Linked DNA regions of Homo sapiens: region 2 is linked to region 1. Evidence: fine-mapped expression QTL. A gene starts in region 1. The other region holds a variant in brackets. All regions are shown on one strand. Distances are from middle to middle.

Evidence for each region. PIP is the estimated chance that this variant, and not a neighbour inherited with it, causes the effect.
Region 2: its variant is fine-mapped to the expression of CHRDL1 in sigmoid colon (GTEx, PIP 0.94).

What each region holds. Positions count from the first base shown.
Region 1 is chrX:110,792,580-110,797,960 of GRCh38, reverse strand. It overlaps CHRDL1 (chordin like 1), which reads left to right and starts at 2,144. Exons shown (of 12, transcript NM_001143981.2): 1 at 2,144-2,217.
Region 2 is chrX:110,692,494-110,697,874 of GRCh38, reverse strand. It overlaps CHRDL1 (chordin like 1), which reads left to right. Exons shown (of 12, transcript NM_001143981.2): 8 at 3,544-3,712. Among named protein-coding and RNA genes, the nearest start is that of CHRDL1, 100 kb to the left of the region's middle. The variant A/G (reference allele first, on the strand shown) is at 2,915.

The DNA of each region.
Region 1 (5,381 bases):
TTCAATAGAATCAACTCAATAGAACCAATTGAGAATAATTGCTTGCTTTAAGCCACTAGGTTTTCGGATGGTTTGTTATGCAGTAATTAGGATTCTACACCAAGCAAGGGAGTGAGTGGTTGTAGCCAAATAGATGAACTTTTAAATCCCAGTGAGTCTATTTATTTTAAATGCTAGAATTTATGTTTGTCTCAGACTATCCCTTGAAACTCATTTTCCAGAATACTCTGTAAGCATGTTGGAAGTAATGATGGGAGTTGGGTAATGCACGCACAAGAGAAATTGAACAACCAGTCCTTGCCCTTGAAGAACTCACAATCTAGTAAGACAAAACATCACTGCATTAAACGGCATGAGAACAGTTATAAGGCAACAAATCAGCAAGTTCAAACCGATATACAACAGCACAAATTGAATGCATGTGGCAGTGTATGGCTACCCAGGCAGCAGGACGGAGCTAGACATTTTGGGCCCTGAAGGCAACATTACAGAAAGGGCCCCCTTTCCTTTGTTAACAGTGAAATAAACATCACCAGCAATGCAGGGGCTAGCTGGATACTATTAACACTTCTGAAAAAGCAAAAGGAGGTAACGTTCAGGGACAATTATTCTTGTTTTAATTTTTCTTTGTTTTCTGTTCCTGATAAGTGGTTTGTTTGTTTGTTTGTTTGTTTTTTTGACAAGCCACAGTTTCTCTGAACATCAATTTCCTCATCTACAGACTGGAGATAACAACCAGAGAGTAGTGGGTTGAAAGTCAGGGAATCTGGATTGGAATCTCAAATTTGTCATTTACTAGCTGTGTGACCTTAGATACATCATCCTCTTCCCCCAATTCAGTTTCCTCTTCTGTGAAATGATGAAGTTAAGCTGAATGGTTCAGAAGTTCCCCACCAACTCTAACACTTGAGACCTCAGGTAGTTCGGTTGGTTTTGAGGGTTTAAAAAGTAATGTTGATGTATGTGAAAACACTCCGTAAGCCATAAAGTACTATACAGATGTTAGGAATATAGATATTTATCTAGTTCATCTAGAAAAAAGCTCTGCGGTTCTTCTCCAAATTTAGGGGCTTAAAATTTTGTCTGTCGAGGCAGCACTTTCCTGGACCCTAGAAGTTTCTGACAATTCTTTGCAACTATCACTTGTTGAATAAACACAAATTTGGAGTAGGCAGGCCCACCAAGGCATCAGCAGTGCTACTGTGATTTCCAGGTTGAGCTCTTGGCCCAACTTAGAAGCTTAGGGACTCATTTAAAAAAAAAATGGTGGGTATAGTGTGTGGCACCAAGTTTTCTTCAAGACACTTAACAGTTAGAACAGGCCCTTTCCATGAGGCTTGGGAGCCCAGTTTGTAAGAGAAAGTGGATTTCTAATCCCTGACCCTACACACACCCATCTCCACCCCGCCTTTAAGGACACCAAACCAAAGCTTTGTCACTCTGTTAGCCACAGTGTGGATATGGGAAACGCCGTGAAATGATAAGCAGCATGCTAGGGCGTGATTTGCGAGGAGGGTTCATTCTGTGTCCAGGGCACCAGCTCAGTACCAGACCAGGTGCACACCTCGGAAAGGCCTTGGTGCCGGAGGAGAGCGGGTGTGGGCTTCCAGGCAGGGGAGTCAGAGGGTAGTCGGTATCTTCAGGGCGTGCGCGAGTGGTGGGGAGCTCCTAGGTGCATCCAGTGCAGAGGGGGAGGAGGGACCGGAGGAGCTGTGCGGTCCCTTTAAGACCCCAACGCTCGCCTAGCCAAAGGAGTGGGGGCTGCAGTGGGGGCGCTGTGTGATGGGAAAGTAGCCGGCTGAGTCTCACACTTTCTCCCGATTTTTAAACTTTCGGGCCGGGGGAGCAGAAATAAAGCCATTGTGCCGGGGTGGAGAAAGTGTGCGTGCTTGCAGCGGCTGCGTGCTTGCGGACTTCCCGCCAGCGCCGAGCGGCCGGCTTCTCGGGCCAAGTGGGGAGCGAGCGGGAGGGCGGGCAGGTGGCCCCGGGCCGCCGCGCCCGCGCCTTGGCTCTGCCCCCGGGAGCCGAGCAAGCCGCTGCTCCCTCGTGGTGTGAGGGCGGTGATGTTTTTCCTCCCACCCACTTTTGAGTTCCCCCTCCCCCCTCGCGCGCACTCTAGCTCTCGCCACAACCTGCCAGCCCCAGACCTCGGACGAGAGCGCCCCGGGGAGCTCGGAGCGCGTGCACGCGTGGCAGACGGAGAAGGCCAGTGCCCAGGTTAGTGAGCAGTGCCCGGCGCCCGCTTCCCTCACCTCCTTTTCCAGCCTTTGCACAGGTGGGTTGCCTTCTCTTGGCCGGAGCCGTCCCTGGAAGTTTCCCCAGGGTGCCCCAAATTCCCCTGCCACCCCAACCTGTTCTGTGCTCCAGCAGTTAGCAACCTGGATGGAGGTGGGGCCCAAGGCTTCTGACCAAAGCAAGTTGGGGGTCTCTGAATTCGAACTCACAGCTCGTCCCTCCCCACTCGGCCTGCATTTCTTTATGCTCTGGCGCTTTGAGAGGTCACTTAGGTACTCCACCCTGAGCTACCCAAGGGACTCTGCAGTCCCCTTAATCACTGCCTGTATTCCTGAGCCTGTTTTCTCATTTTGCTGATGAATACATGGTAAAGTTAATGTAGCAGGGTAGATGGGCGAAAGGCTCCCTATCCTATCCTCTGGCCATCTGCCTCATTTTTTGTCCCTGACTACGGGGGTCAGAATTTGAGACACTAGGCTCTGGAAGCAACGTGGTATATTGCCAGAACATAGGGCCCGGAAAGCCTGCTTTCCAGTCCCTCCCAGCCCTGCCACTAAAGTTATTTGAGTTCTCTGGGTCCCCCCAGTGCCCATTTTGAAGGTGGAGTTGTGTGGAATGAAATGAAATGATAGAAAGGTGTTTTGCAAGCCAAATGCGAGGCATTGTTTGTCAGTCATAAGCAGCAATGAAAGCATTTCCTCCAACAAGAGATACCCTGGGTTAAAACTGCCATTTTCAGTGGCAACACACCACCAGTTAACTGAACTTTTCTTGCTGGGTGGTAGAGTGGGGAGAGGATTTCAGCTGATGGACAAGGGCCTGGGACTCCAGTGTCTTTCTTATTGTTTGTCGGAAAGAAAATTGCTACCCTAGGGGCTGTCCCACAGATGATAGTCAATGTGAGATTACAAGGTCAGTCAAGCCTCTCAGGAGGATTAAAGAGACACTGTGGGGCGTGAAGAACTGGCTGACATGTGTTCATCCCTTAGCCTTCCTGTGGGGATGTCTCTTTGCTTCTGTTCTACCCAGGAGACCTGTTCTGAAAGTGGGCTCCTGACACTTGATGGCCCAGATTGCCTTGCAGTCACAGCTGGGCAAGGAGCAGTTGGTCCCTTTGCTTAACGCAGATGAACAATGTGAATGCTTGTTTCATGGAAGCACCTTAATAAATACCTTTCTTTTGGTACTTGATACATTTCTCTTTCTCTTGTAAAACACAGGAACTCTCCCATCCCACCTCCACTACCTGTGTTAGTTGCAGGGTTTTGTTTTTTTGTTGTTGTTGTTGCTTTCTTGTTGGGTCCTGGATCCCCTGAAGCATGTCAATGGCTACATGTCTAAGTAACCTGTAAAAGAGCCAGTGCAAGTTCAATGGCACAACAGCCTGTGTGAAGCAGACAGAGAGTTAATGCAGAAATAACTCCAGTTAACTGGGTCAAAGTATAATTTGAAAAATTAAGGACAGTTTGGCTCTTTGCAAGAATAAGAGTCGGCTAAGTTCGCTGAGCAATGCTTGCTAGTGTTTACTGCTGCAGTCCCAACACATGTTTTGAACCACCCCCTTCCCTAAAAGAAAAAGCTGAAGAGATAAAGAGAAATTGAACAGTGAGGAGATCTGGGGAGGGAACTCTTCTTGGTTCATATTTCTGCACAGAATACAAAGGCAGGACTTCAGGATCTTGTAAATCAAAAGTGAATATTTATAAAGCGATTCATTTTCTGATGTTCTCCATCACAGCCTGGGAGGCCACACAGATGACAGGAACGCCAAAGGAGATTAATTGCTCTCTAGTTACCAACTTTTTTATTTGCTCATAATATTAGTTGGGACCTAAGAAAGGCAAAAAAATCTATGAGCTGTTTTCTTGCCAACTTGAGTTATGAAGCAATGCTACAGTTCACCGAATCGCCCAACCATTATACAAGAAAAGCAGCCCTGTTGATTCTCGCATGGGGAGACCCTAAAACCATGGTTTCAGAAACACCCGTTGAAATCCATATATGAATGTGATAAATTGGATTTCAGTGGTTAAAAATCTTTCTCTTTTGGAGGCTTGGGGAATAAACTTATTAGAATAGGCTCAGGAAGAACCTCACTGAGGTGGGTAGCTGTGTTAAATTGTTAATGAAAATGATTTGTTTCGAATAAACGTGGTAGCCCTCAAGGGACAGTAACATTCTGAGTGATTGTAAGTGGGCCACAAACTCACAGAGGGGACCAAGACATCAGAACTCAGGTCTTTAGATGGGTAGGAACATGTCCTGAGAGAATTTGGTTCTTTAAGGAGCAGGGAGGAGGTAAAGAAGGAAGGCAGACGGTGCTGCAAATCTTGTTTGATAGCACAGATTACTCTATCATCAGTTCTTCCTTGGTTATGCATTCATAATTGAAACAGTGGATTTTGAATGACCCAGGCAACTTCATAGCATTTAAGTAGGAGCTGTAGCATCTACTTCAGAGCCCAAAGATATTCAACTCTCCAAAATGATCGTTTTGCATTCCTTCAAGTTCTTTATGTGCAATATTTAGGTTGGACTTTCTGGAAAGATCAATGAGTTCATTTCCCATTCAGATTGAATCTGGTGTTTTTAGAACATTTCAATATTTTCAGATCACCCATTGGAGGAATTTTGCAAACTCTAACATCTGTGGAAATGATCCGTGACTAGATGTGAGCTACAGCAAACTTTCTGTGTTCCAAGGTTCAAAAGGTTTAAGATTTCTACCCCTTATACTGGGAATGCCAATCTCATGTTTTGAAGAACTGTAGTTGTTTTAATGGTCTTTTGCATGGTGGTGCAAGGTGAACAAATTATCTATTTAATTTGCCCAATTTCCCCTAAAAATGGCCCATTTAAAATTTCCATTTTACAATGGACTTCTTGGGGGAGGAATATGTTGGAACCATTTTAAGCAGTAAAACTTTTCAGGTGTTTAATTGCATCCATTTGCTAATTACATCTATCTTTTGCAATATTAGTTGCCAAACCAAAGATCCTTGTAGATCTCATAGAGGACACAGGAGAAACTGATCAATTTGTACTTCATTCCAAAAGGATTAAAAGTAGTCTTGAAGCTAAGATTAGTTAACTTTCATTTCAGAAATTGCTTGGTCTCATGCTTGTTACTTTTACCTTGTTTGCTA
Region 2 (5,381 bases), 100 kb after region 1:
TGTGTGTGTGTGTGTGTGTGTGTGTGTGTGTGTGTGTGTGTGTGTGTGTGTGTGTGTGTGGAGTGGTGTGGTATGTGGGGAGGAAGAAGTAGGTGCAGACTAGAAAGCCAAAACATGAAAGCATGCATAATTTTGTTTTGGACAACAGCCAAGCCCTGATTTTTGCCCCCTGTAGATTACGTTGAAATTTACCATTAAAAAAAGTGAAAGCGTTTGGGATAGAAACGACATGAAACAGATAAAAATCCATGTCTCATTTGTACTGTCAGAACAATGGTTTGGGAAGGAAATTGGCCTAAGTGTCTTCCAGCCAGAGATAGTCCTAGGTTGGTAGTGATTAAGATACAATGTTTTAATGGCTGTATGGATTAGAATATATTCTGAAGCCGCTTTTTAAATTAAACTTTTTTTATTTTGAGATAACTATAGATTCACTTGCAGTTGTAGCAGAAAATACAGAGAGATCCCATATTCCCTTTGCCCAGTTTCCCCAAATGGTAACATCTTGAAAATCTATAGTACAGTATCACAAACATGAGGGCCCTTTCTGGACCCTGATGTTTTCTTGTCTACACCAATAAAACTCTTATATTTTAGACTTTAGAACATGAAATTCTTGGGGGTCCTCTACAATAGTGGGGATTTTTCAACACTGGAAAAGAACTGTTTTAGAGCCACCTCTAAAGCCTGAAATATTTTTCAGTCTTTCAAGTAAGTAAATCAAAAAATACCAAAATACTGAGCAAAATAAAAGATCATAGCTATATGGTCATTTCTAACTGGTTTTGACCCGCTCTCTCAAGCAGGCTAGTTGCAGCTAATTTTTAAGATAAGCTCCAATTTCACTTACAACTTCAGGGCGTTAATAACCTTTTTCTCCTTTGCTCTGAGTTACAAGGTCAGAATGGCCCCTCATAAGTCTCTTTCATTTGTTTAGGGGAGGAACTCTAAAAGAACCATTACCCTTAAATCAAAATCACACACCACCACCACCCACTCCAGCCCCCAAACAGAAAATCCTTTATGTCAGTGATTCCCAACCTTGGCTTCAAACCAGAGTCTCTTGGGGAGTATATAAAATCCTAATGCCCAGGCCTTCCCCCAAACCACTTACATAAGGATACCTCAGAGCGGGACCCAGGTATGAGTATTTTTTACAGCTCACCGGGTGATTTTAGTGTATAGCCAAAGTGGAGTATGTGGTATATGTGGTTGTGAACATTGTAGCTGAATGAACTTTTGTATCTGAAAGAACTTCTCTTTGCACCAGCTTTTAGTCAAATGGTTATAGACCACTGAGTTTGATTGGACATTCTTTCTTCCACTTTCTCCTTCTTCTCCTTCTCTTCCTCCTTCTATTCATCTTCCCCCTACTCCTACACTCCTACCATCTCCAAAAACTCAATCTTCATTATCACCATGAGTAAACTGCCTCTCCTCCTTGGCCTCAGTTTCTCTGTCTGTAAAACAAAAGACTTCAACAAGATTAGGTTCTGGGGGACTGACTGGTCTACAATAGGGCCTGTGATCAAAATTCTTGAGGATTTTGTTTTTTCATCATGATCATTTTCCTACCATTATTATATGTCCCAGGTCTGAGACGTTGGTGCTAAAGAATGGCTTTTCATTTTGTGTTCACCATCATGAGTCAGAGAACTTCTCGTACTTGCAGCTTATCCTGGGTCAACAACCTTCCCTCTCTAATTCTATCCCAGTCCAACTGCTTCTTTTTAGGATCAGTGGGACACCAACCAGCCAAACTGTCCTCTATGTGTTCCTTTGGCAAAACTTTGCCAAACTTCAAAAAGGACAGAGCAACCTATAATGGCCTTTGTGGAATGTGAGTGATTATGGCAGAAAAGGACATATGAGCCATTGTGGGAATGAGAAATATTTGAACTGAGAATCCTATCCATGTGCATGAAAACAAACTGATGCAAATTTTTATTTGTGTGAATTTTGATAGCAATGCACCAACATAGGCTCTTCTTAGATAGAATAACATTGTCTTTCAAAAGGCTAAAAAAGGTCCTCTTACTTCAGCTCCTGTTTACTCTCCCTTTCCCCTACCAGTGGCCCCTTCCTGCCAAGAGGGCAATAATACTTCCCAAAGTGAAATTTGCAACATGCCTGTCTGTGGCCCATAACTTTAAACAGTGTTTTATGGGATATGGTCAGGGGACCCCATAACTATCTTCCCAAGGTTCCTCACTATTTCTGTCACTGAATATAAAGACCTTCCTTTTCAATTGCCTGTGAAAGAGTTTTTTAATGGGTTCCCCCTCCTTCACCCCTAACAATTGCCTATAAAATACAATTAATCTTACTTGGCTTTAAGCCTTAAGGTTCCATTCTTCATTCATTTCATCTTCTTGTACCCCCAGCCTACTTTAGCTCCTGGGAGAGGGGTGGGTAGCACAATAGTCTGGTCATCACGTGTGTTGAACCCTTGCTGAAAGATTACTTGTATGACAAGACTCTAAGCTTTTCTTAGGTACCAGAGTTTTGTTCACTCAACAAGTATTTGATGAACACCTTCTAGATGCCTGACACTAAAATCTAGGCACTGGAGATATAGCAGTGAACAAAAAGTCCTTGATTTCGTAGAGCTTACATGCCAATACTGTCATGTACTATCAATTCTTCTACCTATAAAATACCTAGGGTATTTGTACTGCATTGTATGATCTTATGCCATTACCTGTCTTTAGAGTCTAAGTACATCTTATCAAGACTATACTCGAATCTCATCTTTTCCTCCTATCCAGTTCACCCTATGCATGATCAGGATTCAATGCTTTGAAACAGTTCTGATTACATTATTTCTCTAACTTTAAAAAAAAAAATCCCTCAAAGCCTTCTATGCCCTCACCTCTATTGCTTACCAAATAAAGTCTTCACCCCTTAGCCTGTC[A/G]TTTAAAGTCTTCCATGATCTGGCTTCAACCCACTTTTGGAATGTTATTCTGCAACTGTTCCCTTTTATGGACTCGATGTTCTCTTCTTCACCTTCTCAACTTGTAAACCTCTGCCTGGACTATTCCACTTAACTTCTGCCTGTAAAAAAGTCTACCCATCCTTCGTGGCCCAGGTCACAAGCCCTCCCCAACTAGAAGCTCTCTCTTTCTCCTTCTGATTTGCACAGGACTGCTTACTTCTTCTGCAGCCTCTATTCACATTCTGCCTTGCGTGCAGACTACTGTCTTAACTCTTAAACTGAAATGTGAGAGTCTTGGCAGCAGGAAGGACGCTTTAGCCTTTTTGGCTCTTTTCTCCCTGAGAAGTTTGCCTGTAAATCTAGTCCTATCTTTTAGAAGAAGAGAGATAAACCTTGGCAAGTTGTCATTAAAAAAAAATTTTAATGAAAAAAATGTCAGCTGCTTGTACATGACCACATCCCTATTTCTATTGGTGTAGGTAAGCATGCAGCTGAAATCAGAGCTCACCACTATAAATCAAAATTATTGAATGACTTCTAGTATATAACTTAATCTCTGTGATCTCATTGGTGGCTTTTGGACTAAATTTGTTCTTGTTATTTTACAGAGACATTCTTACCACCGCTCTCACTATGATCCTCCACCAAGCCGACAGGCTGGAGGTCTGTCCCGCTTTCCTGGGGCCAGAAGTCACCGGGGAGCTCTTATGGATTCCCAGCAAGCATCAGGAACCATTGTGCAAATTGTCATCAATAACAAACACAAGCATGGACAAGGTAAGGGGCATCCTTCTTTTGTATACTTCCACAACAAGGCTTCAGCAGCCCTGGTCTTTGCAGGGCTGGAGCTGGGAAAGGACCCTTTCTCCCAGGAATAGCCCATATTCACTTGTGGCTCACTTAGCATCAAGTCTGTGGGTATAGTCAGGTGACTCCAGGAGACTCTTTGGACTTCCTTAAATGCAGCCAAAAGAGCATAGTCCGGTCCCTTTTGTAAACAGCCTCTTGTATTTTCTCAATTATCCCTGGGGATTGTAGGTCATTTGGGAAAATTTCTTGGGTCTTTAACAGAATGAGTGATTGTCTGTGTTTTAGTAGGGGACCCAACATTCAAAGGTACTCAGTGCCAAACATCACTGAAGCTCTTATCTATACCTTAGAAATAGCAATTCTCACACCTCAATGCACCCCAGATTACCCTGGGGCTCTCGTTAAAGATACATATTCCTAGCCCCACACTCAGATTCTGGTTAAATGTGTAGCATATGAGACTATCCTTAGAAACGAGTAATCCAGGTGCAGTGGCTCATGCCTCACAGCACTTTGGGAGGTCGAGGCAGGAGGATCACTCGAGGCCAGGGGTTCAAACCAGGCTGGGCAACATAATAAGACTCTACAAAAAAAAATTTAATGAAAAAATATTAGCCAAGTATGGTAGTGAGTGCCTGTAGTCCTAGCTACTTGGGAGGCTAAGACAGGAGGATCACTTGAGCCCAGGAGTTCAGGGTTACAGTGAGCTATGATTGTGCCATTACACTCCATCCTGGGGGACAAAGTAAGACCCTATCTCTAAATTAAAAATTTTAAAAAGGAAAAAGAGTAATCCAGTGAGAAATCCCAAAACCACCTGGCTGAGCACCAGGAAGACTGATCAGGTTAAGACTGACATGCTGTCCACTTAGTTGATCAACTGGCTACAGCAGGCACCCATAGACTTCCATAGCTTCCAATGTCTTCTTACACAGCATTTTCTGGCCTCCACCCGCCCCCTGCCCCCACCCCCACACACACCAGTAGCAGGAGTCAGGGAGGAGAAACTCAATCAAACAATTGACTGCTTCTTACTTTTTTAGGCCTCCTGTCAACCAGCTCGTTGGAGCAAGGGCTCAGCTGTTTCCTTTTATGAAACCACAAACATGTTTTGTTTCGTTTAAAGGGAAAACAAATCAAAAGCAGTTTTCTGAATGGGTTAAAAGTAATAAATTATTAAACCAAATGATTGAATAACATGGGTGAAAAACAATCCGTTACAAAGAACTCCTACCATAAATCTCAACAAAGCTAGTCAAGCCAAAGCTAGTTGATCACATCTGTTACTAGTTAGATGTATATTTCAGATTACAGATAAAAAAATTAAATTGCTTTTGAAATTTGCAGGCTTAAAAAAACATTCGAAATAAAACCATTAATGGAAAATGGTGATGTAGTAGAAGAATTGGAAATACTTACTATCGATCTGTGTTTGATTTGTATTTTATTATTTTTAAGTTCCAAGGATTTCTGATAAAAGCTTATGAAATCAGGAAGAAAGGTAAAGATAGCTTGATTTTCAATTCTAAATTGCCTCCAATAGATTCCATTTGCTGTGAAAGTATTTCAAAGCCTTTTAAAAGTGTAGGGAAATGGATTTTGAAAATCCTAAATCCCATAATTTCCACAAGGTCTC